Regions from separate parts of the Homo sapiens genome. Here region 1 is reported to be linked to region 2. Evidence: microRNA targets listed by miRTarBase, many of them from high-throughput screens and not tested one by one. Region 2 holds a microRNA gene; the other region holds the end of a gene's coding sequence.

Region 1 (3,000 bases), not on the chromosome of region 2:
GGAGATGCAGCTTTGGGTGTGGCGGCAGTGAGGGGCAGGCAGGTGCTTTAGAGAGCCCTGCAGGACTGTCCCACGGCCATGTATGCAAGTGTGAAAAGCCCCGCTTCAGAGCCACACAGGTGTAACCTTGTTCCCATTGCTCCTTCCAAGGCGTGGTAGGGGGACGTGGGGGATGAGGTTGAACAGGTGGGTGCCCTCGTGCCAGGAAGCGGTTCTCTTGTCCCTGAGAAAAGTAACTCAGCCCAGAAGGCCTTGGGTATGAAAGGGCCATATAGGGCTCTGCGGACGCGTCCTATAAGTGAGAACCGCCAGGCGGGCAGGGTGGGGCTGGAGGGAGAAGGGAAGGTTCACTGGGGTTGCAAGAGCTGCCCCCTGACAGCACGGGAGGGAGGGCAGGGGGTCCCCAAAGGGAGGGGTCACCCTGCAGGTCAGAGGAGCAGCTGTGCCCCTGGCCATGGAGGGGTGGGCAGGGCCATGAGCCCCACCCTGAGAAGCCGGAGTTGAGGGGCTGGGCCAAGGGGTGCCATTGCTGGTGGGCAGAAGTTTCCCTCCCTGCAGGAACAGCCTGCACCCCCAGACTGTGAAGAAGGGATTCTTGCCCTGTGGTCACTGCGGGCCCTAGAGAGTCTGGGCCATGCCATGCCATGCCCTCTGCAGCTCTGTGGCCTTAGGGCAGGCTGGGGACAACTGCCCCTCCCCAGAGGCTTCCTTAACAGTTTCCTCACTGTTCCCCCTCTGGAGGGCAGGCGTCCCCACACACTACCCTGCTCACCCTAGCCCACCAGAGCACAGTGCCCTGGCTGTCTCCTCCCAAAGACCAGATGCCCCAAGTCTGCTGCCTGGGTCTGAGAGGGTCAAGTCCCTCCTCCACCATCGACTCCACACACCTGGGACCTGCCCCCTCCCTCACCACACACTGCACACATCACATGCACAATACATTCACACATATGTACTATACATGTGCACACCTCATACATGCAATGTGCACCACACATGCATCCTACACGACACGTGCACACACACCACACATGCATGCCTCACAGTACACCTGCACACGTGCACTACACACAATCACACGTGCTATGCGTACACACCACACGTGTGCCTCAGTGCTACACATGCCTCATACGACACGTGCACACACATATGCATGCCTCACAGTACACCTGCACACGTGCACTACACACAATCACACGTGCTATGCGTACACACCACACGTGTGCCTCAGTGCTACACATGCCTCATACACACAACACGTGCACACACCACACATGCCTCACAGTACACCACACGTGCACTACACACAATCACACATGCTATGCGTACACACCACACGTGTGCCTCAGTGCTACACATGCATCCTACACGACACATGCACATACCACACATGCATGCCTCACAGTACACCTGCACACGTGCACTACACACAATCACACATGCTATGCGTACACACCACACGTGTGCCTCAGTGCTACACATGCCTCATACACACGCACACACACCACATATGCATGCCTCACAGTACACCTGCACACGGGTGCTACACACAATCACACATGCTATGCGTACACACACTTGTGCCTCAGTGCTACACATGCCTCATACACACGACACGTGCACACACACACCACATATGCATGCCTCAGTACACCTGCACACGTGCACTACACACAATCACACACGCTATACATACACACCACACGTGTGCCTCAGTGCTACACATGCCTCATACGCACACACACCCATGCATGTGTCACATGCACCGTCACACCATAAGCTGCACCCACAGCAGGATGGGCTCAGAGCCAGGGCCCAAGGGTCTTTTATTTGTGTGCTGGACGCTGTTGGGAGTGACTGGATGTGAGCCAGCCCTATGGGTGGGGATGGCACCGCCCTACCGCCGAGAGAGTTGAAGCTGCACCCCCGAAAGGAGCCAGCTGTACCTTCACCCAGTCTGGGGGACTGGTGAGGCACTTGGGGGATGGGGAGCAAGGCCAGCTCACGAAGGAAGACTTGGGCAGGGAGGATCAGGGACGCCTGGCAAGGATCCACCCTATGGAATCGGGCCTCGTCAGTGGGGTGACAATGTCAGAGTTGTCTATAAATCGGGGGGGAGGCCGCGGCCTCGAGGTGGGAAAGCAGGTGCCGGCGCACCTGTGGACAAATTCTGGAACGCGTTTGGCGAGGGAGGAATAGGCGCAGCTCCGGAAGGCAGTGACCTCGAGGCAGCCTCAGCACGGCACTCTCTTGGGTCCTCTTCCAGGCTCACACTGGGCGACAGCGGAGAGGCTCTTGGACGGGGCAGAGCTCGCGCCGAGACCTGCATGTCCGCGTCTTGTGACGGGTGTGTGGGAAGCCGCCCGCCTGTGCATCTTGCTTCCGGGTATTCGCTGGCTGATTTACTGGTTTTAGAGATGGGGATGGGCACCCAGTGCTGGACTGAAGACCAGAGAAGGTGGAGCTCCCTGTGGCCTTGGTCTCACCTCTCTTCAGGTAACAGGCTCTGCCCTGACCCAAGCTGAGCCAATGAACCCCCTCCCTGGGAATCCACACCTGGACCCATTCCTTCTGGGCAGGGAGGGCTTGCTGGAGGGAGGGAGGCTGTGCACCCCACAGAAGACTGGGCCCCCTGGGCACAAGGGGACACTGGTGCTGGGTTCAGCAGCCCCCAGGACCTGGGCCAAGACGGGGGTGGCTGCTGCATTCACGCAGGACGTTGAGCTGCAGGGACTAGAGTGGCAGATGGGCCAGGTCCACTAGGCCACCCCATCTCCACCCCCAGGGCCACAAGCCGCTGTGGGCTCCACAGGGGTGGGAAGGAGTGCAGGGCTGGGGCTCGAGTGCCGTGGCCTCCACGTAAACGGGAACACGCTGTGGGCGAGAAGGCGGCTGAGAACAGGCTGGCCAGCTGGTGTCCTGCCCACCTCACTGCAGGGCCCCAGCAGCCCCCAGGCCACAGCCGCCGGCCACAGGGCACTGCCTGGGCTCACCGTCTCT
Region 2 (3,149 bases):
GGAAGAGGCTGGGGTTGGGGAAGACCAAGGAGAAGAGGTGTAGACATTGAGGGGGAAAGATCAAGGAGAAGAGGCGTGTGGCGGGGGGGAAATGAAGGGGAAGGGGCGTGTGGCTGGGGGAGACCAAGGGGAAGAGGTGTTTGGGGGGTAGATCAAGGAGAAGAGACGTGGCGGGGGAAGACCAAGGGGAAGAGGCGTGTGGCGGGGGAGATCAAGGGGAAGAGACGTGGCGGGGGAGATCAAGGGGAAGAGACGTGGCGGGGGAGATCAAGGGGAAGAGACGAGGGGCAGGGGAAGATCAAGGGGAAGAGGCGTGTGGAGGGGGAGATCAAGGGGAAGAGGCATGGTGGGGAGATCAAGGGGAAGAGGCGTGTGGCCAAGGAAGACCAAGGGGAAGAGACGTGGCGGGGGAGACCAAGGGGAAGAGGCGTGTGGTGGGGAAGACCAAGGGGAAGAGGCGTGGAGGGCAGAACAAGGGGAAGAGGCGTGTGGCGCGGGAGATCAAGGGGAAGAGACGTGGCGGGGGAGATCAAGGGGAAGAGACGTGGCGGGGGAGATCAAGGGGAAGAGACGAGGGGCAGGGGAAGATCAAGGGGAAGAGGCGTGTGGAGGGGGAGATCAAGGGGAAGAGGCATGGTGGGGAGATCAAGGGGAAGAGGCGTGTGGCCAAGGAAGACCAAGGGGAAGAGACGTGGCGGGGGAGACCAAGGGGAAGAGGCGTGTGGTGGGGAAGACCAAGGGGAAGAGGCGTGGAGGGCAGAACAAGGGGAAGAGGCGTGTGGCGCGGGAGATCAAGGGGAAGAGACGTGTGGCAGGGGAAGATCAAGGGGAAGAGGCGTGTGGAGGGGGAGATCAAGGGGAAGAGACGTGGAGGGGAGATCAAGGGGAAGAGACGTGGTGGGGGAGATCAAGGGGAAGAGACGTGGCAGGGGAGATCAAGGGGAAGAGACGAGGGGCAGGGGAAGATCAAGGGGAAGAGGCGTGTGGAGGGGGAGATCAAGGGGAAGAGGCGTGGGGGGGAGATCAAGGGGAAGAGGTGTGGGGGGGAGATCAAAAGGAAGAGGCGTGGCGGGCAGGTCAAGGGGAAGAGGCATTGGGGGGAGATCAAGGAGAAGAGCGTGTGGTGGGGGAGATCAAGGGGAAGAGGCATTGGGGGGAATTAAGAGGAAGAGGCGAGGGGGGGAGATCAAGAGGAAGAGGCGGGGGAAGATCAAGGGGAAGAGGCGTGTGGTGGGGGAAATCAAAGGGAAGAGGCGTGTGGTGGGGGAGATCAAAGGGAAGAGGCGTGTGGTGGGGGAGATCAAAGGGAAGAGGCGTGTGGTGGGGGAGATCAAGGGGAAGAGGCGTGTGGTGGGGGAGATCAAAGGGAAGAGGTGTGTGGTGGGGGAGATCAAAGGGAAGAGGCGTGTGGTGGGGGAGATCAAAGGGAAGAGGCATGTGGTGGGGGAGATCAAGGGGAAGAGGCGTGGGGGGGAGATCAAAGGGAAGAGGCGTGTGGTGGGGGAGATCAAGGGAAAGACGTGTGGTGGGGGAGATCAAGGGGAAGAAGCGTGGCCGGGGGATGAAGACCAAAACTACCTCCCACGCATGTGCGTGGGTGCATGTGTGTCGGAGAGGGGGAGGAAGGAGGAGCAGATGCCTGACCACAGCTTCTTACAGGGAGGTCCTGGACACCTCTATCTCCTCAAGAACAAGGTGGCCACCTTTGCCAAAGTGGAGAAGGAAGAGGACATGATTCAGTGAGAAGCCGGGTGCCCTGGGCGCGGGGAGGGCTGGAGGCAGAGTCCAGGCCCTGGCATGTCCCTCCCCCACAGCCCCTCCTCCACGGTCCGCTCTGTGGAGTGGGGTGCCTGTCCCCTGCCACTGGGTGACCCACCCCTCTCCACCAGCTTCTGGAAGCGGCTGAGCCGCCTGATGAGCAAAGTGAACCCAGAGCCGAACGTCATCCACATCATGGGCTGCTACATTCTGGGGAACCCCAATGGAGAGAAGGTACAGTGACCCCCAAGCCCCACCCCAGACCTCTGGAAACCCCCGACGTGGACAGACAGGGCAGAGCCTTCCATGTTTCCTGGCATTTTTTTTCCTTCCCCCGGGCATTCCCCTAGAAATCCTTTATGCCTGAGCCCAGCCAGGTTTGGGGGGTCTGAAAAAAGAGGGTGGGCCCTGCTCCCCATCTCCTCCCCGCTCCTCCTTCCCCATCTCTCTGCCTCGGACTCATGGCACCCCGCTTCCTCCAGCTGTTCCAGAACCTCAGGACCCTCATGACTCCTTATAGGGTCACCTTCGAGTCACCCCTGGAGCTCTCAGCCCAAGGTGAGTTACCCAGGCTGGGCCGAAGCTCTGCAGCCACTGCGGGGCCACGGTGGGGTGGGATCCCCAGGGCCGGCCAGGCCTGAGCCTCCTGCCCCCGCTCCGCCCAGGGAAGCAGATGATCGAGACGTACTTTGACTTCCGGTTGTATCGCCTGTGGAAGAGCCGCCAGCACTCGAAGCTGCTGGACTTTGACGACGTCCTGTGAGGGGCAGAGGCCTCCGCCCAGTCACCATCAGGCCACTCCCTCTGCACCGGGACCTGGGGCTGGGCCGCCTCGTGCTCCCCGGGACTGTGTGGCTCCGGTCTCGCCTGGAGCCACTTCAGGGCACCTCAGACGTTGCTCAGGTTCCCCCTGTGGGTTCCGGTCCTCGCTGCACCCGTGGCCGCAGAGGCTGCAGTCCCTGGGGGCCGGGAGGATCCCGCCCTGTGGCCCGTGGATGCTCAGCGGCCAGGCACTGACCTGCCATGCCTCGCCTGGAGGCTCAGCTGTGGGCATCCCTCCATGGGGTTCATAGAAATAAGTGCAATTTCTACACCCCCGAAACAATTCAAAGGGAAGCAGCATTTCTTGTTAACTAGTTAAGCACTATGCTGCTAGTTACAGTGTAGGCACCCCGGCCCAGCAGCCCAGCAGCCCACATGTGTTCAGGACCCTCCCTGCCCACCCCCTCCCTGCCGTATCGATCACCAGCACCAGGGTGGCCCGTGTGCGTGGGGCCAGCGTCGCCGGGCTGCCCAGCCTGGCTCTGTCTACACTGGCCGAGTCTCTGGGTCTGTCTACACTGGCCGAGTCTCCGACTGTCTGTGCTTTCACTTACACTCCTCTTGCCACC

What was found. Region 2 holds the annotated microRNA hsa-miR-7114-3p (UGACCCACCCCUCUCCACCAG, at 1,869-1,889, shown strand). A microRNA usually pairs through its seed, bases 2 to 8, with sites in the 3' UTR of a target mRNA and lowers its output. Matches are read on the target gene's strand: a 7mer-m8 pairs with bases 2 to 8, a 7mer-A1 pairs with bases 2 to 7 and ends in A, and an 8mer does both.
Region 1: miRTarBase lists RGS11 as a target of hsa-miR-7114-3p. Seed matches in the 3' UTR shown: 7mer-A1 at 2,513-2,519.

What each region holds. Positions count from the first base shown.
Region 1 is chr16:266,510-269,509 of GRCh38, forward strand. It overlaps RGS11 (regulator of G protein signaling 11), which reads right to left. Exons shown (of 17, transcript NM_183337.3): 16 at 2,994-3,000; 17 at 1,798-2,874. The coding sequence ends at 2,760. It also overlaps a transcript of FAM234A not described here. Among named protein-coding and RNA genes, the nearest start is that of RGS11, 7.9 kb to the right of the region's middle.
Region 2 is chr9:137,448,766-137,451,914 of GRCh38, reverse strand. It overlaps MIR7114 (microRNA 7114), which reads left to right and starts at 1,829; the gene lies at 1,829-1,889. It overlaps NSMF (NMDA receptor synaptonuclear signaling and neuronal migration factor), which reads left to right. Exons shown (of 16, transcript NM_001130969.3): 13 at 1,660-1,739; 14 at 1,890-1,992; 15 at 2,241-2,316; 16 at 2,424-3,149. The coding sequence ends at 2,521. RefSeq lists an enhancer at 1,447-2,646.